Regions from separate parts of the Homo sapiens genome. Here regions 1 and 3 are each linked to region 2. Evidence: fine-mapped expression QTL. A gene starts in region 2. Each other region holds a variant in brackets. All regions are shown on one strand. Distances are from middle to middle.

What was found.
Region 1: its variant is fine-mapped to the expression of GLO1 in testis (GTEx, PIP 0.99).
Region 3: its variant is fine-mapped to the expression of GLO1 in blood mononuclear cells (TOPMed, PIP 0.98).

Annotation. Positions count from the first base shown.
Region 1 is chr6:37,941,658-37,949,843 of GRCh38, forward strand. All of the region lies in intron 2 of ZFAND3 (zinc finger AN1-type containing 3), which reads left to right. Among named protein-coding and RNA genes, the nearest start is that of ZFAND3, 130 kb to the left of the region's middle. The variant A/G (reference allele first, on the strand shown) is at 3,813.
Region 2 is chr6:38,699,475-38,707,660 of GRCh38, forward strand. It overlaps GLO1 (glyoxalase I), which reads right to left and starts at 3,671. Exons shown (of 6, transcript NM_006708.3): 1 at 3,497-3,671. The coding sequence starts at 3,580. RefSeq lists enhancers at 2,813-3,405, 3,438-3,487, 3,508-3,607, 3,788-3,947.
Region 3 is chr6:38,676,044-38,684,229 of GRCh38, forward strand. GLO1 (glyoxalase I) reads right to left here. Exons shown (of 6, transcript NM_006708.3): 4 at 6,765-6,832; 5 at 5,969-6,058; 6 at 1-1,340. The coding sequence ends at 1,252. Among named protein-coding and RNA genes, the nearest start is that of GLO1, 23 kb to the right of the region's middle. RefSeq lists a silencer at 5,185-5,397. The variant C/T (reference allele first, on the strand shown) is at 3,474.

The DNA.
Region 1 (8,186 bases), 760 kb before region 2:
AATGTTTGGAAGTGTGATTTAATTGCAAGGCTGTTTGCACATTGTCAGTGTGAAAGCAAAGATGAATTTCGTATTTAGACTGTGCAACCTGCAGATTTCATTTGTTAAACCTTCCAGTTGGTACTCCCGTTCTCTCATACATGTGTGCATAATAATAGTATGGAAAAAAACTCCTGTTTTGTTGTATCCATATTTATCAGTTTGGTTGAGTTATGGAAAAGCCTGTCCTTTGCTTTGTGTATTTGCTCATTTGGAAACCTTGTATAGTTTATAGAGACACTAGTGATTTGTTCCCCAGCTTCCCTGTGGGTTTTGTTCCATATTACAATCTAATTCCACCTCTCTGTCCCATACTCCTGAGCTGTTAATTTGTACATTTCGATGCCGTTTGTTTCATCCTGTGTTTTTTAATCCAAACTGAATGTAATGGGCTGTGTGCTTTAGGGACCTGGCTTTGCCTTGCCAATTAGAACAAAGTGGTTACTGAGTAAGAGTATGTTTTAAATAAAACATGGCACCTCTGAATGGTGCTGATACTCATTTGGGAATAAAAGAGATGGTTTTAACCCTTTGACTCACAAAGAAGAGCCATTATAAAAGATCATATATATATATTTTTTTTTCTTTGAAAAGAAGGGTAAAGTTTACCTCCATAAAATGTGGTTTTACAAGTTTCTTAAGGTAACTAAATAAATTTAAAAGTTTGTCATTAAAAATGTACTTTTTTCCTTCATGATCATTTGAGACATGTTAGCAAAATTCTGTAAATTTATGAATATTGAACCAATGGCTGCTGCTGAATTTTGAATTTGTTCATGTTTAGGAAGGTGAGGGTATATGAAACCAATAGATATGTCAGCCTCTTTTTATTTTTATAATATATCAAGCCAAGTTTTCAATTTAGTGGTGACACTCCTTCCCCCAGAGATACTTAAAAATTATGAAGGTGAATGTAAGCTTCTACAATCTTGTGGGAATATTATTTTCAGATAATTGAATTTTGAGCCATCAATGACTTAAGGCTATTTGGAAGTTTAGCTGCACTTTCACCAAATATTTATAGCACAGATGTTTCTGAATAGACCATAGGCTAATAGTTTACTAATTCACGTCATAGAGAGACACTTCATCAGTTACTTCTGTTATTGTATTTGCATCTACCCTAAAAATAGAGTTCTCTTTTTAGCTGATATAGCAGATAAACTGTAATTCATCATTGGAATAAGGAAAACATAAAACTTACTTTGAAGAAAAAGTGGGACTGTATCAAAAACTTTGAAATAAAGACATCCAAGGGAAAGCTAGACGTAGAAAGACTTGGTGACAGGTTTAGACAACATTATAGCATGTATTAACCTATGCAAACAAGAGAGAACAAAAGGAATGCATTTCTGTAGAACAGTTCAATTAAAAAGTATGTAGGAGTATCATGTTGAAAAAAAAGGTTTCTAGAAAAATGATGTCTGTAGTAGAGGAGGCCAGTTAATTGGACTAAGTGAAACTAAACATAGGCATTTCTAACATTGTACTGGGAAAGTCTTGCAAGCCCTACTGCTGGTTTGAAGAGACGATCATTGTAACAGTATTACTAAATGCCCTGTACTTCAGATTTGAAGATTAACCTCCATATTGCTAGTACTTTAAATTGTTCAGTTTTCTGAGTAAAGATATTAAAGTTTAAATGTGCTTCCATCTTCTCCTCAACACTGTTTTAACCTGTAGCTAAACTGACAGTCCAGGAGATTGAATTTTGTTTAAAAATGTTTGATATCTGTAGAGAACACTGTATTTTCCAGCTTTGCATAAAGTGACAGTGTTTTCCTTAACTCATATGTTTTAGGATCCAGTAGCTGTTAATTTCCATGCCTGAAGCACAAATTAATGTCAGGAAATCTTTCTCAAAAATTATTTTCATGCAGGTCCCAGGCTTCCAATGGCAACTGAAAGCTGGGTTATTCATTTCTCCTATACCTGTTACTCAGTGTGCATCATAAGTATTTGTAAACACTGGTTTTGCTTTTAGGAACTCTAGAAGTGCGAATCCCATTAATCATGTGATATTAGTAAATGATGATCATAGAATATTTGAGTGGAAAGAATTTTAGAGCCCTTTTCTTACCAAAACACTGGTACTCAGTCCAAATGTCTACTGAATTAATGAGTTTCAAAGTAAACTGAAGTGGTGAGGGTAAAGTGGCTTATTATTTCATCTTTTATTTGCATACTTCAACCTCAGTTTCCTTTCTCCTTCCAGTGTTACATGCTATATTAGTAATCTTGAAGATGAGACTAGAAATAAATCTATAACAAAGTTGCAACAACCCTTTAATTTGTAGATACTGCTTTAGGATTGTATGCCTTTTTCTGTTTACTATCTCTTAATTCAGGTGCTGTTAGTCTTGCAGGTAAACATTCATTGTTCTGTAGAGTTGATACAGTTGTCAAATTTTTGTGTATTTGTGTGTATGTGGGTTTATGCACATGCATACAGTTATTTAGATGTGTTGATTATAATTTTTAATTAAAATTTTTATTTAAATATGACAGTTGGATTTTATATGAGATTTTATACCATATAGCAATTACAAGAAGAACTAAAACGTCCAAAAACACTATCTGCATCATTAGTACCTTAAAGAAATTTCCCCAAACTTGATGAAAATCTTTATTATAGATTTTTAAAAAACCCATGATAAAGTGTTTCATGTTCTAAGATACATACTCTGTGGAAATGGATCTTTTTTATAGTGTCCCTCTATCAAGTAGCCTGGGTTTATAAAATATCACAGAGACAAAATTCTTTTCTCAAAATCCCTACATGGCCCTACAAGAGGAGGAGCCTAAAAAAAGAAAAGAGAAAAAACTGTGTGTATGCTTCCCTTAGGCCAAAATTTGTCTTCATTGAATGGGAAAGGCAAAACTACTAAATCGGTTTTTCTTTTGTGATGACTGAGGTCTTGTGTTTTGACCTACAGCGTATATCACGTGGAGAAAGGTGCTTCATATAACTTGGGTAGCAATTTGAGAACTTAAGTAATGACAATACTAAGTATTTAATATTTTTTCTTTTGGGCTGATACCAGTGGGCTGGGGGAGGTCCCTAAATGCCAGTGGGACATCAACTCTGATCAATGGTCAGGCTCTTGACAGTGTCTTCAGTAGGAATTCAAGGATGAGTTGGAAAATAGTGAAATGTACTAAGATTTATTGCAAAATGAAAAGTACATGCTCAAGAAAGGGGAGTGCGAGCATACTCCAGACAGGGTTTGGCTTCTATCTGTATGGGTTTCTTTAATCAAGGGGTGGAGTATTCATGAAGATTTCTGGAAAAAGGTGAAAATTTCTCAACTTTAGTGCCACCCATTTTTACACCAGTATGGGTGCTCCCGGAACTGTCTTGGCATTGGTGGGTGTGATTTAGTATGTTAATGAGCATATAATGAGGTCCTAGGTGAAACCTAGGTCAAATCCAGTGCCATGTTGGGTCCACTTCGTCTTAGCTAGCTTAACCCACACTCTGCTTTTCAGGGTCTTCTTGGCTCCTAGCTTATGTATGTATTTCAACAGTTTCCTTTTTGCTAGTCATGTGAAACTGCTGCCTGGAATTTTCTTTTCCCCTTCAACCACCCTGTATTATTCCTGTCTCAGGGCTTGGGGGAAACTATATGGTATTCTGGAAAAATACCACGTGGAGGCAGATAATTTTGGACAATGGGAAATTTTGCATTGGAAGATCATTGACATAGTCTTTTTTTCAAGACAGAGTCTCGCTCTGTCTCCCAGGGTGGATTGCAGTGGTGCAGTCTTGGCTC[A/G]CTGCAACCTCTGCCTCTCCGGTTCAAACAGTTCTCCTGCTTCAGCCTCCCTGCACCACCATGCCCAGCTAATTTTTGTATTTTTAGTAGAGATGAGGTTTTGCCATGTTGGCTAGTCTAGTCTCGAACTCCTGAACTCCAGTGATCCACCTGCCTTGGCCTCCCAAAGTGTTAGGATTATAGGTGTGAGCCATGGCACCCGGCCGACATAGTCTTATTTTAGTTATCAGTGGTAATTTATTTTTGGACACACCATATGGTTTAATCTTTATAAAGCAAAAATGAATGTCTTGTCTAAAACACTGTTTTATATAGTTGTCATATAAAATACCTGACTTTGTTTTAGCAGACTTTTTCCTTTTTTGGTGTCAATACTCTGAGTTTATGAAAAGCACAGCTCTTGCTTGAGTGCTTATCAGACACCTGGATACCTGAGGCACTGCTGGTCACCACTTCTTGTTAAAATTTGGTCAGTGATTCTAGTTGCATTATAAATTAAAATTCAGAGAAACAACCCCACCCTAACATCAGAGTGGTGTTTTTGGTGTCTTAAAGGGTTGGTGTGGTTTGTTTAGTGGCTCCATTGAAAGGCTGCCTAGGACTTCTGTCTGAATTTTAGATGGACATAAATACAGGGTATTCATTGTGGAGGTTCAGAGTGAGAGAATAATGGGGAATGTAAAAGCATACAAGTCTGTTTTTTAAAAACTGCAACCAAGGGAACCTTTTCAAAGTACACTGTAAAGGTCAAGTGTCTTGTATTTCCTACCTGATCTCTATGTGACTGAATGGAGGCTATTTCACTTCTGATTTATAAGATACTTACCATGACTCAAGGTTTTGTGAACATCTGACATTATTAGCGCTTTTGTCTTTTGCATGGCTCCACCCTTAAGAAGGAAAACACAGACCTAGTTTACATTTAGAGAAGCCCTTCCCTATAGGCCTTTGTCGCACAGCTCAAAAGAGCAACAACCTTAGAAAAGTAATTGGGTTTTTCAAAACACAAAATTACAATTTTTCCCCCCATTCCTTCATGCACACTGTAAAGTTACCAGGATACCCTTTCTCAATAGTTTAAAATTGTGACCTATTTTTTTCCCCCTTTTTGGTGTCCTGATCAGGGTTGGGGGAGAGGGAAGCATTAATTTTTTTACTAATTTCCCTTGAATTCACCAGTGCCTTAATTTCTCACAGCATTATCAAATAATTGATGTTTATGCTGTTTTGGAAACTGGCTTTTAACAAGTGTTTTTGCTATAGCGTGAATGAACCTTGACAACATTATGCTAAGTGAAATAAGCCAGTCACAAAAAGAACAAATACTATTTATTCTGCTTACGTGACGTACCTACAGTAGTCATATTCATAGAGACAAATAGAATGGTGGTTTCCAGGGGCTAGAGGGTGGGGGAACTGGAGAGTTGTTTAATGGATAAAGAAAGTCAATTTGGGAAGATGAAAAAAAGCTCTGGAGATGGATGTTAAAGCTCTGGAGATGGATGTTAGTGGCAGTAGTTGCACAACAACGTGAATGTACTTAATGCCACTGGAACTGTACGATTAAAAACGGTTAAGATGGTAAATTTTATGTTATGTGCACCTAACCCCAGTTAAAGATAATGATTAAAATAGTGTTTACTTTTGAGTACAGTTTTGTTCTTTACACTTGCCAAAATCTTTCTTTGTTCAAATTTCTTTTAAAAATCTGTTAACAGGAGGTTAAGTGTGAATATTTCATCTTGTTCTGTGACAGTAAACTAGTCATCTATAGTAGAGAGCAGAAAATAAAAATATTTCCAGAAATAAAACTGAGATTTAAAAACAATTTAATTTTTTTCCTTTTCATATTTATCTGTGTAGATGATGCCATAACAGGCATAATTTATATTATTTATATGATTAAATTAAAAAGTTGTGGTGGCTTAGATTTTGGACAAGCTACTTTACCTGAAATATTAGTTTCCTCATTTGTCAAATTGGGGGTTACTATACCTCCTTCCCTGGGAATAAAATTAGATGATATAGATGAAATCTCTTTAAAGGTATTTTATTAAAGTACTACATGTATGTAGTTTGAAAAGTCAAAATATTACATGTAACAAAATGCCCTGCCCTTTCTACTCCAAGTTTCCCCACATGCAGTGATTAAGAGGAAACAATGACTCTGAATTCTGTCTGCTGTTTCATCTAAATTTATACTTCTCCATATTTATGATTAATATACATATATTGCTGACTTTTTGATTTATCAGTTGTACACATTTTTTTTTTACCTTGTTGTGATATATAAAGCCTTTGCTTTCTTATACCACCCTCTCCTATTCCCCCCAACATATTTGTAGTGAAGTTTTGGTTAAATCTTCAGTATTTACTTTTTTATGGGTATATAAATATTATGACATTGGAGCATTTAGCTTAGTATTTCCTTTCTTTTTTTCCCTTCCTGGAGGATTTTCCAGAGATCTTTCTGTTACTTCTATTTTTATTCCATTGTGCTCAAGAAACATTTTGTATGACCCTCATTTATTTATTGAGACTTGTTTTATGACAAAATACGTCTTGGAAAATGTTTTGTTTATATTTGAAAAGAAAGTGCATTCTGCTGTTGTTGAGTAGTGTGTTCTTCAAGTGTCAGTTAGGTCAGGTTGGTTGACAGTGTTCAAGTTTCCATGTCTGTTGATTTTTTGCTTACTTGTTCTGTCAGTAACAGAGAGGGATAGTGAAATATCTGAATACAATCATGGATTAAAGCAGTTTTTTCTTATATTTGTATCATATTTAGCTTCATGTGTTTTGAAGCTGTCTTACTAGGTACATAAATATTTAGCATTTTTACATCTTTATAAATTGACCCCTTCATCATTATGAAATGATCTTTTTAATTGCAGATAATGTTATTTGTTGTGAAATTTACCTTGAGATTAATTTAGCCATGCTAGTTTTCTTTTGGTTAATGTTCACCTGGCATAGTTTTTTTCTTTTTGTTTTCTTTCCAACTTTTGTTTTTAGACTTAGGGGGCACATGGGCACATTTGTTACATGGGTAAATTATGTGTCATGGGGGTTTGGCGTACAGATTAGTCACCCAGGTGATAAGCATAGTACCCAATAAATAGTTTTTTGATCCTCACCCTCCTTCCATCCTCCACCCCTAAGTAGGCCTGCGTATCTATATTTGCCTTGTATCCATGTGTACTTAATGTTTAGCTTCCACTTATAAGTGAGAACATGTGGTATTTCGTTTTCTGTTCCTGTATGTGTTTGCTAAGGATGACTTCCAGCTCCATCCATGTTCCTGCAGAGGACATGATCTTGTTCTTTTTTATGGCTGCATAGTATTCTGTGGTGTTGTCTGTACCACATTTTCTTTATCCAGCCTATCATTCTTGGGCATTTAGGTTGATTCCATGTCTTTGCTATTATGAATAGTGCTGCAATGAACATATATGTGCATGTGTCTTTATAATAGAATGATTTACACTCCTTTGGGTATTTATATTCCTTTAGGTATACAAACTCAGTAATAGATTGCTGGGTCAAATTGTAGTTCTTTGAGAAATCTCCAAACTGCTTTCTTCAGTGGCGGTACTAATTTACTTTCCCACCAGCAGTGTATAAGCATTCTCTTTTCTCTGCACCCTCACCAGCATCTGCTGTTTTTTGACTTTTTAATAATGTTCTGACTGGTGTGAGATGATATCTCATTGTTGCTTTGATTTGCATTTCTCTAATGATTATTGACTTTGAGCATTTTTTCATGTTTGTTGGCCACATATTTGTCTTTTGAGAAGTGTCTGTTCATGTCCTTTGCCCATTTTTTAATGGGGTTATGTGGTTGTTGTTAATTTCAGTTCTTATTGTGTGGGGAAAACTCTGTGTTTTTCCTCTACTCTCACACCACAGCAGTCATTTATGCAAAGAAAACTCCTGTGACCAAATGTGTGTGGGGGGGTCTCTCCCCACCACCAAGCAGTGGACACCAGCCAGGTATCCTCCAGTTCAATTCTGACACTATCTACCTGGAGGTGTAGTGCCAGATCCCACAGGTTGAGGGCTCCTTCCCCAAGACTGCTCCCTCCTTTCCCCACCAGTTGCAAGCCCAGGTTTCCGGAACTTCTGACACACACATCAAGTTGAGATTCCCACAACCCCCTCTTTGGGTTCGATTAATTTGTTGGGGCTGTTCACAGAACTCAGAGAAACACGTTTACTAAGAAGGATATTTTAAAGGATACAGATAAATAGCCAGATAAAGAGGTACATAGGGTGAGGTCTGGAAAGGTCCCAAGCACTGGAGCTTCTGACCCTGTGGAGATGGGGTGCACGACCCTCCCTGTACATGGAAGAGTTCTTCTTCACCTTCCTCTTGCC
Region 2 (8,186 bases):
TGACTGCCTGAGGGGTCGGACAAAAAGAGCCATATTTTTCTTCTTGCAGAGAGCCTATAAACGGACGTGCAAGTAGGAGAGATATTGCTAAATTATTTTCCTAGCAAGGAATATTAATATTAATACCCTGGGAAAGGAACGCATTCCTGGGGGGAGGTCTATAAACGCCCGCTCTGGGAATGTCTGTCTTATGAGGTTGAGATAAGGACTGAGATACGCCCTCGTCTCCTGCAGTACCCTCAGGCTTACTAGGGTGGGGAAAAAACTTCACCCTAGTAAATTTGTGGTCAGACCGCTTCTCTGCTCTCGAACCCTGTTTTCTGTTGTTTAAGATGTTTATCAAGACAATACGTGCACTGCTGAACATAGACCCTTATCAGTAGTTCTGCTTTTGCCCTTTGCCTTGTGATCTTTGTTGGACCCTTATCAGTAGTTCTGCTTTTGCCCTTTGCCTTGTGATCTTTGTTAGACCCTTATTAGTAGTTCTGCTTTTTGCCCTTTGAAGCATGTGATCTTTGTACCTACTCCCTGTTCTTACACCCCCTCCCCTTTTGAAACCCTTAATAAAAACTTGCTGGTCTAAGACTCAGGTGGGCATCACAGTCCTACTGATATGTGATGTCACCCCCCGGCAGCCCAGCTGTAAAATTCCTCTCTTTGTACTCTTTATTTCTCAGCTGGCCAATACTTATGGAAAATAGAAAGAACCTACGTTGAAATATTGGGGTGGGTTCCCCCCGTATCAAAACACATTTTTGCTAAGATGTTTCCTTCATCAGAATGCCTTCCCATGTACTCTGCTGGAATCCTACCCAATCTATCAAGGCATAGGCCCATCACCACCATCTTTTTGATGTGTGCCCTGATCCCCACAGCTGAAATACAACCTTGAATTGTATCACTCTTCATAGTTTAGAGAACATAATACATGTCATTTTATCCTCATAGCAGCTCTCTGAGATATCTTTATGCTCCTTCTACAAACTGAGCCCAAGTGCCCTGGCAAGGTCACTGCAGCCAACAACAGAAGTGGGGATTCAAATGCAGGTCTTCAGGCTCCAAATACCCTGTGCATACCCCATTCCACTAATGCTACCTTTAAAAACCTCTACCTCCCAGGGTGCTCTCAGGGTGATTTATATTTCAATAGCACACTAACCCCAGGTCCATTGTATATTAGAGTTGATATAAGTTGGTGAAGGGAGGGAACCTCATCTTGTTTATCCCAGTATCCCCAAAGTACTTACCATCTTCTTTACATATAGCATAAATGTATCAAGTGATCAAACTGAATTTAATTCATTGAGGGTTTTTTTTTTTTTTTGGACAAAGTCTCACTCTGTCACCCAAGCTGGAATGCAGTGGCATGATCTCGGCTCCCTGCAACCTCCACCTCATGGGTTCAAGTGATTTTCCTGCCTCAGCCTCCCAAGTAGCTGGGATTACAGGTGCCCGCCACCATGCCCAGCTAATTTTTGTATTTTTAGTAGAGCAGAGTTTTGCCATGTTGGCCAGGCTGGTCTCGAACTGCTAACCTCAGGTGATCTGCCCACCTCGCTCTCCCAAAGTGCTGGGATTACAGGCATGAGCCACTGCACCCAGCCTTCATTGAGGTTTTTTATTTTCCTTTATGGCAAATTCCAAAATTACTGCTGGAGTCAGCACCCCAGAAGCAGAACAGGGTGGAGGTTGGAAGTGTGGGGTCCTCCCTGGGCAAATCACTCAACACCTCTATGTGCCTGAGTGTCCTTATTTGTAAAATGAAGATCATAATTATGCCTTCTTCATAGGGTTGTTGTTAGGATTAAATTAAACAATGTACTTAAAATACCAAGCCAGGGCCTGGCACACTCAATATATACCAGCTATTATTATGTATTCCATTTTATGTCTCCCATGGCCAAAAATTACTGATCTCAAAATTAATTACTCCGAATCATCAAGAGAAATTTAGATACTGTGGAATGTAAATTAAGCTGCAAGGACATTTACTTAGTATATTTTATAAAGATATCCCTGGAATCCTTTTTATTTGAAAACCCCATTACATAAAACCCCTAGTTATCTGGGAAAATACTTTACACTGAGTGACTCAATTTACATTATATGAAAAAACCAGGTATTAATATTAAGGGATATACAAGTGAGATGGGCATGACGGAATTTTTTTACCTTCCCCCTTAATTTTGCAATGACTAACATTTTTCCTAAGCCAAGTACCAGGTGCTAGTCAAAAGTTTTAGCAATGAGATGTGTCTGACTCTTTGCCCTGAAGGTAAAGAACAAGCAGGGACCAGAGTCATGGACCACTTATCTACCCCTTTTAAAGGTCTGCACGAAGCACATATTCAATCTTCAAGGAATTTACAAATGATGTAGTCAAATAAATAAATACAAAGGTGTTTACAGACACTGATGACTTCACTGGAATAAACAGCGGTTACTGTGCCTGAATTTTTTTTTTTTTTTTTTTTTAGACAGAGTCTCACTCTGTCGCCCAGGCTGGAGTGCAGTGGCACGATCTCAGCTCACTGCAAGCTCCGCCTCCCGGGTTCATGCCATTCTCCTGCCTCAGCCTCCCGAGTAGCTGGGACTACAGGCACCCGCCACCACGCCCAGCTCATTTTTTTGTATTTTTAGTAGAGACGGGGTTTCACCGTGTTAGGATGGTCTCTACCTCTTGACCTCGTGATCCGCCCGCCTTGGCCTCCCAAAGTGCTGGGATTACAGGCGTGAGCCACCGCGCCCGCCAACTGTGTCTGATCTTAACAAGGCAACCGAAACACCACACCTGAGTGAGTTACACTGATTCTTACCCAGTAAAGACATGTTCGGTAAGTGAAAGCCTTTGTATGCAACAGGTCATTTCTCTTACTGGGTCATTACTGTAAAACGAGAGGGTAAGAGAAGGAATTTCTAAGATTCCTTTCAGATCCAAACTCTATGATTCTGTAATCTCTCCTGGGCCCCACGAAGATGAGGAAGGCAAGAAGGGCTGTTGTGACCCACAGCAAAGGCCAAGCAAGCAAAAGTGAAATTCTGGGCGCGGTTAAACTTAGAGCGATCAAATTAGTTTGCAGGAGTTAAGACTGCAGTCAGGGTGGTAAGGAAAAACGAGGCTGGGCAGGACTGGTACAGGACAGGCATCTTTGAACCTATTTCTGGGAGTTCTGAAACTACTGTTCTCGTGGGCCTTGGCGACTGATTTGGGAAAGCTGACCCTGGGTTGGCCTGGCTTCCAGCCACCGTCGCAACATAAACAAGCCAATTCAAAACAGGGTCGCAGTCTTTGAAACTAGCTGAGGCAACAGATCCCCTCCACACTTCGCGGGCCCCACGATCGCCCCATCAAACACCATTATCCCTCTTCCCATCACACTCCCGTCCGCCCGAGGCCGGCGGACCTGCAGCGGCGGCGGGATGGGGTTGGATAGAATGCGGCCCGGTCCCGGCCCAGCGGAGCTGGGGGAGCCGTTCCCTTCGGTCCTGTGCCCACCTTGGTACTGGGGTCCGCGTCGGAGCAGCAACTGAGGGCGGCCTCGTCCGTGAGGCCGCCGGACGGGGGCTGCGGTTCTGCCATGGCTGCGCTGCAGTATCACAGACGACGGGACCCAAGGAACGGAGGAGTCACCCACACTACGCCTCGGCCCTGTGCCGCCTTAACTAGGAATGGCGCGATGGCGCCGCGGGCGGGAGACCGCTGACTTCCAGCCAATCGCTGCGCGGAGAGCAAGTTGACTCTCTGCTGATTGGGTCCCAGTGAGTCAGCGCCTCCACCCACAGGACTATGCCTCAGACTACAACTCCCAAGGAGCCTTGCGCATAAAGGAGGCAAACTCATACAAAAAAAAAAAAAAAAATGCAGGCTGGGCAGAGTGGTTTCTCTGTTACTTAATGAGCTAATTTTGTTTGTTTAACTAAAGTTTGGTAACCATTCATACCTCAGGGCTGCAATTTGGTAGAAAATTGGAATCTGATGGAAACTGAAAACTGTAAGTTGTTCTTTTAAAATTGTAAGGATTCAGAGGTTTCTCAGTTTACGCAGCGCAGAGTAATTAAAACAATTGTTGAGTCGAAAACCTATGTTCAAGTCTTGGTTCCGCTATATATTAGCGCTAGAAACTTGCAATAATTACTGACCCTCTCTGAGCTTCCTAACAGGATTTGTTGAGAATTAAATAAGTTTTCTTTTCCTTTTTCTTTTTTCTTTTCTTTCTTTCTTTCTTTTTTTTTTTTTTTTAATTTTTTTAACAGTGTCTCGCTCTGTCGCCCAGGCTGGAGTGCAGTGGTGTGCTCTCAGCTTACTGCAGTCACTGCTGCCTCGACTTCCGGGGCTCTAGCTGTCCTCTGGCCTCAGCCTCCCGATTAGCTGAGACTACAGGCTGCAAAACCAAGACCAGTTAATTTTTGTATTTTTTTGAGATGGGGGTTTCACCATGTTGCCCAGGCTGGTCTCAACTCCTGGGCTGAAGTGACCCTCCCGCCTCAGCCTCCCAAAGTGCTGGGATTACAGGTGTAGCCACTGTGCCCAGCCTAAATGAGATTTAAGTCATGGTTTGCCTACTTAGGTTCCAAATGTCCATAACTTGCAGTACTTTTTACATTAATATATATTTTGTGTTCACTGGAAGGCTTAGTCATCACTGTGTCTTCAATGATTGGCTCATAATAGTAGATGCTCATTAAATACTTCCTGTTGTTAAAAGAATAAATGGGAATGACTGGTGCTCACCTAACCAAAATGAGGTTGGGCAGGGATGTATATGGCACTAGCCACCTGGCCACCACCAAGATGTCCCCGTCTCTCATCTCAGCTTTTTTCTGCATCGCAGCTTCAGTTTGTCAGACACCAGCTCCATAAGACTAGAAATTTGGCAGCTGTTCTCTCACTAGGAGTGGGAGTAAACTCTCCCTCTGGATTTTATCCAGCCAGCCTGGATTTTATCAAATTGGAAAATCCAAGAAGGAGCTGTGATTGGCCTGGCCTAGGACCTGTGCTTACTCCTGTGATTGAAGCACTGCGATTGGCAACCTGGATTAGGACCACCTGATTGGAGTTTGGGGAGGATCTGTTAGTTCCCTAAAAGAAGAGCGATGATGTTCTTATGAGAAGGGAGGATTGCCAGGCAAACTGAACCATGGATGTCCACTGCAAAATGATAGGCAGGATAAGGATTTCAGCAGAAATGTTGTGCATACCTCATACTAACTTACTGAGGATATTTCATCAAAACACAGTCTATTAGAACTGCAGGACTTCTATATGGAACTAGACCTTAAACCTTTTAAACTCGGGAATTGGAGCAATACACAAACTCTCCATATACTGTGTGTTACCACTGAATTATTGAAAAGACCCCCAAATTGTCTTCTTTTGCATTAATTTTCTTTTTTAGATGGAGTCTTCCTCTGTCGCCCAGGCTGGAATGCAGTGGTGTGATCTTGGCTCACTGCAACCTCCACCTCCTGGGTTCAAGCGATTCTCCTGCCTGAGCCTCCCAAGTAGCTGGGATTACAGGCACCTGCCACCATGCTGGCTAATTTTTGTATTTTTAGTAGAGACACGGTTTCACCATGTTGGCCAGGCTGGTCTCAAACTCCTGACCTCAGGTGATCCGCCCACCTCGGCCTCCCAAAGTGCTGGGATTACAGGCATGAGCCACTGTTCCCAGCCCTTTTGCACTAATCTTTCTGGTGAGCTTCTCAGACTATGTGAGATATAAAGCATGTAAATGAATAGGAAGACTCAATATCATAAAATATCAATTCATTTACTAATTAATCTGTTCATGTAATGAAATTCCAATAAAAATCCCAACAGAGTCCTTTCTTTCTTTCTTTCTTTCTTTCTTTCTTTCTTTCTTTCTTTCTTTCTTTCTTTCTTTCTTCTTTCTTTATTTGTTTCTTTCTTTATTTCTTTCTTTCTTTCTTCTTTCTTTCTTTTCTTTCTTCTTTCTTTCTTTCAAGATAGGGTCTCACTCTGTTGCCCAGTGTGGAGTGCAGTGGTGCTGTCTCAGCTCACTGCAGCCTCAACCTCTCAGGCTCCAGCAATCCACCCACCCACCCACCTCAGCCTCACAAATAGCTAAGACTATAGGCATGCACCACCAAAACCAGATAATTTATTTTATTTTAGTTTTTGTAGAGACAGCATCTCACTATGTTGCCCAGGCTGGTCTTGAACTCCTGAGCTCAAGTGATCCTCGCACTTTGGCCTCCCCAAAGTGTGATTACAGGTATGAACCACTGTGCCTGGCCCAGGGGTTTTCAATTAAAATGAACAAGCAGATTCTACATTCTATTTTTAGGGCCCCAAATAGGAAAGATATACTGAATAATAATTAAGTAGGGGAACATTCTCTACCGGATAACAAGACTTTGTACAAGCTACAGTAATTAAGACAGGATGAAAAAAAAAAAAAAGACAGTATGGTAGGGAGGCTGGCATAGATCAACAAATGGAAACTGTAGTAGACCACTCTAAGATAACCCCAATGATCCCCACCTCCGGGTCTTCACAGTCTTGTCTGCTTCCCTAACCTTGAGTATGGGCTGGATTTGGTGGCTCACTTCTGATACAAAGAGCATGATAGACATGATAAAGTGTCACTTCATGTCATTTCTGAGATTAGAGAATGAAATGTTGTGATTCTTATCTTGGGAGCTCTGTCACTTTCTTTGATCTCTCACTTGGAGGGTAAGCAAGTTGTCACGTTGTGAGCAACTCTAAGGAGAGATGCATGTGGCAAGGAACCAATGTCTCTGGTCAACAGCCAGTGAAGGCCAGACACCTGCCATCAGCTACACAGTAAAATTGCAAGTGGGTCCTTTTTCAGTAGAGCTTCAAAATGACTGCTGCTTTGGCCAACCTCTTAGTCACTGTCTTGTGAGAGACCCTGATCCAGAACTACCTAGCTGGACCATTCCCAGATTCTTAAACCACAGAAACTGTGAGATAATAAATGTTTATTGTTTTCAGCTGCTAAGTTTTGGAATAAGTTGTTGTGCATTAATAGGCAACCAATATACACACATACCATGTTTGTGTCTCTGTGTGTGTGTATATATATATAAATTTGGTATGTGTTATCTTACTGCTAGTGGGGAAAAGATTATTTTTTCAATGAATGGGGTAAGGACAATTGATTATGTATGTGATAAAAAAAGATCTCTATTTCATACCATAAAGGAAAACGTAAGTCCAAGAGGATTATAGACATAAATGTGAAAAGGCAAAACTTAAAACCTTGAAGAATAAAATATTAGAAAATGCCTTTGTGAATTCATGGTAGAAATTTCTTAATGAAGGCTGGGCGCGGTGGCTCACTAGCACTTTGGAAGGCTGAGACAGGTGGATTGCCTGAGTTCAGGAGTTTGAGACCAGCCTGGGCAACACAGTGAAACCTCGTCTCTGCTAAAATTCAAAAAATTAGCCAGGCGTGGTGGCGTGTGCTTGTAGTCCCAGCTACTCGGGAGGCTGAGGCAGGAGAATTGTTTGAACCTGGGAGGCAGGGGTTGCAGTGAGCCGAGATCGTGCCACTGCACTCCAGCCTGGGTGACAGAGCAAGACTCCATCTCCAAAAAAAAAGAAAGAAAGAAAGAAAGAAGTTTCTTAATGAGATATAAAAGCACGAAGTATAAAAGAAAGCTAAAACACACCCTAAAAGGTAAAAAGTTAAACCATAGACCAGGAGAAAGTATGGGCAACACACATAGCCAACAAAGGTTCAGTATCCAGAATATGTAAAAACTGTTAGAAATCAATGAGAAAGAGACACATAACTCGATAGAAAAAAATGGCCAAAAAGAAGAATAGGCAATTTACAAAAGAGAGAATAGAAATAGCATATATTCATATGAAAAATTGCTCCAAGTCTGCCCTACGTAGTGAAACCCCACCTCTACTAAAAGTACAAAAATTAGCCAGGTGTGGTGGCACATGCCTGTAATCCCAGCTACTTAGGAGGCTAAGGTAGGAGAATCACTTGAACCTGGGAGGTGGAGGTTGCAGTGAGGTGAGATCACGTTACTTGGGCGACAGAATGAGACCCTGTCTCAAAAAAAGGAAAGAAAGGAAAGGAAGGGAGGAAAGAAAGGAAAGGAAGGGAGGAAAGAAAGGAAAGGAAGGGAGGAAAGAAAGAAAGAGGAAGGAAGGAAGGAGGGAGGGAGGGAAGGAAGGAAGGAAG
Region 3 (8,186 bases), 23 kb before region 2:
CTAGCAGTACAAGCACGGTTGGCATGGCCTTTCCAAAGGTCTTCCACTAGAGTCTAGAGAAATCTAAATATAGTCATCCACAAACTGGATGTTTTTATTTTCTGAGCCATTAGAGATTTTCAAAATCACTTTGATTTTTAAAAACTCATCAAATGTGAATCATGGCGGGGAAGACCACTGAGCTGATTTCTGATAACTAAGTTATCACTGAACATAATTTATCATATATGGCTACTGGCATCATGAAGACCTTGGGATAGGGAAGACTCTTTATGAGAAATATAAACATCACTTGTGTAGGAATCACCAGGTGTCCCTAGAGCAGTTTTGTACTAAAGACTTCTAGTGTTTACTCCCTCACCACGGTACTCCAGCCCAAGAGCCAAGAGCACAATGGTCAAACTCACTGAAGGTTTTTACAACAGGAAACCAGTGGAGGTATTGTGAGGTACTACAACTTTGAGGCACAATCTAAATACTAAAAATGATTATGAAATCTTGAGTTGAGCTGATTGATGCCCTCTTAAATCCATTAATAATCCATGAAAGTGATTTCACATGCCTAGCCTGCTTTCTTTCTCACATGACAGCTGGGAGTATTAAATGAGATAAAGTTGCAGCCTAGCCCAGTGTCTGGGTACCATATCATTTCCTTCCTCCTCCCCTTTCCCAAATAAATAAGGTTAGTCCTTGAACTTTAAATGTACTTTATAATAAGAAGAAATCACTTTTTCTATCAGTATCCTTGTCAGCATGATTTGAATTGCTCTCAAGAGTACCTACTCTTTTGTAAAATAAACACTTTGTACTTTACTGAAAGAACACTAGTGTTCTTTCCTTTCCGTTGTGAAAAAAGTTGTTTCTGAGGAATTGAAACCCCAGAAGATAACTACAACAAAAACATGTTAATTTTTTTTTAAAAATGATGATTCAAAGGCAGATTTGAAGGGAAGTAATATTTAGGTGGCAGAAGAAGGCAAATGCAGCCTCTGAAGGGAACTGTTCTAATTATTACCTAAAAAATAAAGTTACACAACTATATTCAAGGACATGAGATAAAGCACTGCTTGAAAACCAGAATGACTGAACAGTTAGGTGAAAAGGAACAGCTGAAATAGGAAGGGGAAATGGACTGAAGAATAATTTGAATCGGGACAGTGATCCATCAGTCCTAGATGCTTCTGGTATGTAAATATCTTGAATCACATTGTTTCCTTTCTTCTGAAATCTCAAAGGAGAATTCTCACAGCACTACATTAAGGTTGCCATTTTGTTAGGATTCAAAATTTCAATCCAGTAGCCATCAGGATCTTGAATAAATGCCAGGCCTTTCATTTTACCTGTAAAATGAAAATTTTCATTATTGAAAAGACTAAAAAAGAAAACACCATAAAAATGTTTTTCTTTCTTTGAGACAAGGTCTTGCTCTGAATGTCAGGCTGGAGTGCATGGGATGATCATGGCCCAAGGCAGGCTTGACCTCCTGAGCTCAGCCTGCCAAGTAGCTGGGGCGACAGGCACGCACCACCTTGCCTGGCTAATTTTTTGATTTTGTAGAGGCGGGATCTCAATGTACTGCCCAGGCTGCTATCAAACTCCTGGCCTCAAGCAATCCTCCTGCCTTGCCTCCCAAAGTGGTGGGATTACAAGCACAAACCACTGCACCTGGCCTTAAAAACTTTTATTAATTAAAGATTTACTTTGCATTTTAATGAAGTACATTATTTTGTTTACAGTTTTAAATTTTAAAAATTCTTATTGTCAGAAAAGTATGAAAAGTCATACTTTTCATAATGACTAAAATGTTATCTTGCACACATTGCAAATACCAGCCCTCCTGAAATAAACTGTGGGACTGGCTGCATCTTTTAGGTATCAGGCATTTGCCTCACCTTCATGATACCACACTACCAGTTCAGTAGTTACAGAAATTGTCTTATTTTAAAGAAGAAAAAGAAAATAGGGAGGTGCTGAAGGGAGCTGGTAGCATGGCTTACCCCCACAACCAAAAGACCCAGATGCTTGGGTCATACAAACCCTTTTAAATACTATCCTAGGCAACCCAAGCTCTGCGAGAGTCTTTCTCCCAGGAATTCAAAACTGAGATTGAGAGTCTAGTATGTCAGAGCTGTTTGCTTAAATGGAAAAATATGACCTCAGAAATTTATTTGGGGACCATTATGTTGAATTGGTTTGACTCTTATCTCTGCCTCCTTTCTCCAAGATCAATCCTAGAGGAACATAGATGGAAAATGCAGGAAAAAGAAAGAAAGAGAGAAAGAGAAAGAGAAAGAGAAAGAGAGAAAGAGAGAAGGAAGGAAGGAGGGAGGGAGAGAGAGGAAGGAAGGAAGGAAGGAAAAGAAAAGGAAAAGAAAAGAAAAGAAAAGAAAAGGAAAGAAAGAAAGAAACCCGGCTGGTGACAGCTGGGGAGAATGGGTGAGGATGGGGCCGGGTGACTGTTTTAACTTGGGCTGTGTGGGAGGTGGTAGTTCTGGCCTGGACCAGAAGGCAGTGCATAATGGCTGCGAGAGAACAGAGTTTTGCTCTTGCTCCTCCCTCACTGCTGTGTGCATCGGCACCTGCCCTCTCGCTTGTTCAGATGTCCTTACCAGTAAACAAGGGCAGTGCAGGAGCCTTGTGCTTGTGAGAAACTGAGAAAAACTGGTAGGGCCGAATGATCTCCCCAGCCCTCTCTCCACGCCCAGGGCTAGGGAATAACACTATCGGAAGTGTCTCCTACTAATACTCTTCCCTGAGGGATGAAGTGGGAAGATCCAACCTGAAGAGGTGTTTTGTGGAAGGTGAAATAAATTTAAGTCTCATTTCTAGGTGCCTAGGAATCTCTGGCCTAGGCTTATCCAGCCCATTGTCCTGAGATCATGTGGGTTGTTAAGGACAGGGATCTGGCCATTCTCCTATTCACACTGCTTGATGTGTTAGAATAGCGAACAGTTGCAGGGGAAAAAAGCTCAGAGGCAAAAAATAATAATTTGAGAAACATAACCATAAAACACCCCCAAAGCAATGGACTGTAGATTCAAACAGAAGAAATATTAGAATAATGGACCAAGAGCTATTTTTGTTTTTTTTCTGGAGACAGGGTCTTGCTCTGTCGTTTATACTGAAATGAAGTACAGTGGATCATAGCTCACTGCAGCCTCCAACTCCTGGGCCCAAGCAATCCTCCCACCTCAGCCTCCCGAGTAGCTAGGCATACAGACTACAGGCATGTGCCACCATGCCCAGATAATTTAAAAAAAAACCTTTTTGTAGAAACAAGGTCTTCCTATGTCACCCAGGCTGGAATGCAATGGCACAATCATAGCTCACTGCAGCCTTGAACTGCTGGCCTCAAGTGATCCTCCCGAACCTCCCAATCCTCTGCCTCGGCCTCCCAAAGTGCTGCAATTACAGGCATGAGCCACCATGCCCAGACCCAAGGACTATTTAGACATGTAAAAGTAATGACCGGC[C/T]GGGTGTGGTGGTTCACATCTGTAATCCCAATACTTTGGGAGGCTGAGGCAGAAGGATCACTTGAGGCCAGGAGTTTGAGACCAGCCTGAGATACATAGTAAGACCCTGTCTCTACAAAAAATAAAAAATTAGCCATACATGGTGGCATTTGCCTGTAGTCCCAGCTACTCAGGAGGCTGAGGTGGATTATTGTTTGATCCCAGGAGTTTGAGGTTGCAGTGAGCTATGATCACACCACTGCACTCTAGCCTGGGCAACAGAGCAAGACTCTGTCTCAAAAAAAAAAAAAAGTAATAAACAATATGAAATATTACCAATATGAAAAAAAGAACAAGAACATATTAAGCAAACTAAGCGAAAATTAGAGATCAAAATTATAACAGGTGTTTAAGAACAAAATAGATGAATTAAATATCAGAACAGATACATTTGGGAGAAAATTAGCTAATTGGTATTCCAGTTTGAGGAAATCTCCCAGAATGCAGGCAGTGACAAAGAAATAATATAAAAAGCTTCTAGAATAAAACAGAAGAATATACAAAGGAACATGAATTGACAGATTTTTCAACAGCAACATCATATGCAAAAAGAAAATAGAAGAGTATTTTCAAGACTGAAGGAAATTAAACCTAGGCTTTTCCATAAAACTGTCCTTCAGACATAAAGGCATCATCCTCAGTTACACAGAATCTCAAAAGTTTTGCCTTAAAAACCCTTTAAAGGGCTGGGTGCGGTGGCTCATAGCTGTAATCCCAGCACTTTGGGAGGCTGAGGCAGGCGGATCACCTGAGGTTGGGATTTTGAGACCAGCCTGACCAACATGGAGAAACCCCGTCTCTACTAAAAATACAAAATTAGCCAGGCACGGTGGTGCATGCCTGTAATCCCAGCTACTCGGGAGGCTGAGGCAAGAGAATCACTTGAACCCAGGAGGCAGAGGTTGCGGTGAGCCAAGACCGTGCCATTGCACTCCAACCTGGGCAACAAGAGCGAAACTCCGTCTCAAAAAACAAAAACAAAACCCCTTTAAAGACCATTTTGGTTGAGGTATTTAAATAAAAGAACAGAAAAATCCAAAAGATGCTAAAAAGGCTGGGCATAGTGGCTCACGCCTGTAATCCCAGTGCTTTGGGAGGCCAAGGTGAAAGAATCGCTTGAGCTCAGGAGTTTGAGACAAACCTGGGCAACATAGCAGGAACTCATCTCTACAAAAAAATAAAACAATTAGCTGGGTGTGGTGGCATGTGCCTGTGGTCCTAGCTACTTAGGAGGAGGCTGAGGCAGAGGATTGTTTGAGCCCAGGAGTTTCAAGGCTATAGTGAGCTATGACAGTGCCATTGCAGCACCCCAGCCTGGATGAGAGTGAGATCCTGTCTCAAAGGAGACACTACAAGAGATATATGAAGAAAAAGTGATCAAACACCGTGATATATTTATTATTATCTTTAAAAAATAAAATCAATACTATCCCACTCTAGGTAATAGTGACACAATGAGGACAGAGTGAAGCAAATTCCTTTCTTATTGGGGAGAAGATTTGGATATTAAATATATATATATTTTTGTGACGGAGTCTCACTCTGTCGCCCAGGCTGGAGTGCAGTGGTGCGATCTTGGCTCACTGCAACCTCCACCTCCCAGGTTCAAGCAATTCTCCTGCCTCAGCCTCCTGAGTAGGCGGACTATAGGCGCCCACCACCATGCCTGGCTAATTTTTTCTATTTTTGGTAGAGACAGGGTTTCACCATGTTAGCCCAGATGGTCTGGATCTCCTGACCTCGTGATCCGCCCGCCTTGGCCTCCCAAAGTGTTGGGATGACAGGTGTGAGCCACCACGCCCAGCACTGGATATTAAGTATTTTAATTTTTTTAAAAAAGGATTGAAATTAAACAGTGAAATATTTCAAATGTTTAGATTGAGACTCTGAAATATTTAATATTTCAATTTTAATTTGAAATAGTTCAGAAAGAGATCTAAGTAAAATAATAACAATACATGTAAACCCAGCAAAATCCATACGTAGGCTATTTCAAAAAACCTACCTAAAACTTAAGGACATACAAAGGTTATAAAAGATGAAAAAGAAATACCATGTGATTATAAACTAAAGAGAGCTGGTGTCATTATATGAGCATCAGATAAAATGGACTTTAAGGAACTTATTTTTGGGCGGAAAGATATACACTGAAATAGTGAAAGCTGGTGGCCAATGAAAGAAAGTGGTGGGGTCGGGCAGTGGGAGAGGAAGCGTAGGGTTTTGATGGCTGTCCAGGTCCTGTGTCTAGTGCCTTGGAAAGCCACCCTAGTTGCTGTCTTTCAGTTCCCTAAAATACCCAGATATTCTTCCAATCATTTCTCTTTTTTAAAACTCTGGTTGAAGTGGAGACTTCTGTTACTTGTAGCCAAAAGGGTTTTACTACAACAGTGGCCTCTGTAGGTGGTTAGTAAATATCAACTAAAGACAGGCCTGAACACAGTAAGTAGTAGACTCACCATCATCAGGTTTCTTCACAAATTTGACTCCCAGTTCTTCAAACCTTTTACAAGCACTGTATACATCAGGAACAGCAATTCCAATATGACCTTACGTGATACCCCCCGAAAAAAGCAGAGAGAAGGAAGAAATAATTATAACAGGGTGTCCAAGTACCACAAGTAGATTCCAAAACTTGTTTATTTCAAAACATAAGGCACTTGGGAACAGACTTAGGTAGGTTCAAAATCTATAATACATTAAAGAACAAATATAGATCTAATGGGCTGGGTATAAGTAGTTAATTAGTTGCCTTGAATTATAAATTATTTAAAATTAATCAATATCAGCTCATATACAGTCTAATCAGTTAAGAATAATCGACACCAAAAAACAGTAATCATTTACTAATACTTAATAGGTTTGTGGTTGGCATTGACTATAGCAGCCAGCTGAAGCCTGCAATACTGTCATCTTGATTGAGAGACTGGAGATCAAGGCAGAAGTGTATGTGCTAGCAGAAACTGGGATTAGTATTAACTACAGCTTTTTTAAAAAAAAAAGTCTACTGGAAATTAATTCTGAGACTTAAAAGTAAATCATGGTGAGATGGTAAGTGTAATTTTAGATCGAGACTCTGAAATTAAACAACTCCTAAATAAGATTATTTGTGGAAAATAAAAATAATCATATCTCTAATAAATTGATCATACTTAATTAGGACATTAATGTTTTAGGTTTATTAAAATCATAATTATATACATAATACAAAATCACACAAATCTACATATATCACATAAAAACAGGCAAACTTACCGAATCCTCGAGGGTCTGAATTGCCATTGTGGTAACTCTGGGTCTCATCATCTTCAGTGCCCCAATTGCTACAAAAGGAAGGAAAACATAGCTACAATGTCCTAGGGAATAGATATTCTGAAAAGCAAGTAACATCTTTGAAATCTTACCACGTTTATATGCTACTTTACATAATTGGCCTAACCCCTGCTACAAAAATATTAAGTTTTCAACTATAGAAAGGACAAATGGCCAAAGTATGATTTTAACGAGACTAAAGAGACAGTAAATACAGGTACTGGACAAGAACAATAATAAGAATAATAATAATGCTCATTTATTGTGCTAAGTACTTTATATTTCATTTAAACCCTTAAAACAGCTCCATGGGCTAGGTGTGAACATCTCCATTCTATTGATGAAACTGCCACTTACTTGTTTAGAGTCACAGACTCATATCTAAGCCTGCCTGATTCCAAAGCTTTATTTTGAATCAAGGGACACACGAAATCACACACTCTGAAATCAATCTCTTTTAAAGTATGCAGATAAACAATGTAAAGAAATTGCCTACATTTTTAAGTGCTCAAGTTATAAAAATACCAAATTTGAATGTTAATTATTACAAAATGGTTTGAAGAATTTTTAAAGGAACACATGATATCACATTTCTGGATCCAAAATGTAGCAAAATAATAAAAGAACAAAATTTTGGATGCTGAAAGACTAATTATAGTACCTAAAAATTAGTTAGAGACAAACAGGCAAATATCTTACAATTTCAGGGTCTTATATTCTCTTATCTAAAAGACAAATGGAGGCCGGGCGTGGTGGGTCACGCCTGTAATCCCAGCACTTTGGGCGGCCGAGGCAGACAGATCACGAGGTCAGGAGATCGAGACCATCCTGGCTAACATGGTGAAACCCCGTCTCTACAAAAAATACAAAAAATTAGCTGGGCGTAGTGGCGGGCGCCTGTAGTCCCAGCTACTTGGGAGGCTGAGGCAGGAGAATGGAGTGAATCCGGGAGGCAGAGCTTGCAGTGAGCCGAGATCGCGCCACTGCACTCCAGCCTGGGCAACAGAGCAAGACTCTGTCTCAAAAAATAAATAAATAAATAAATAAAAATAAAAGACAAATGGGCCAGGCGTGGTGGCTCATGCTTATAATCCCAGCAGTCTGGGAGGCCGAGGCGGGCGGATCACTTGAGGCCAGGAGTTTGAGACCAGCCTGGGCAACATAGTGAGACCTTGCCTCTATGCCTCTACCAAAAACAAACAAACAAAAACTAGCTGGGTGTGGTGGCACACATGTGTAGTCCAAGGTGCTCAGGAGGCTGAGGCAGGAAGACTACCTAGAAGTTAGAGGCTTCAGAGAGCCTGTCTCTAAAAAAAACACATCTCATTTGCCCAAGAACAATACAAAGATCAAAAGATGCATGAA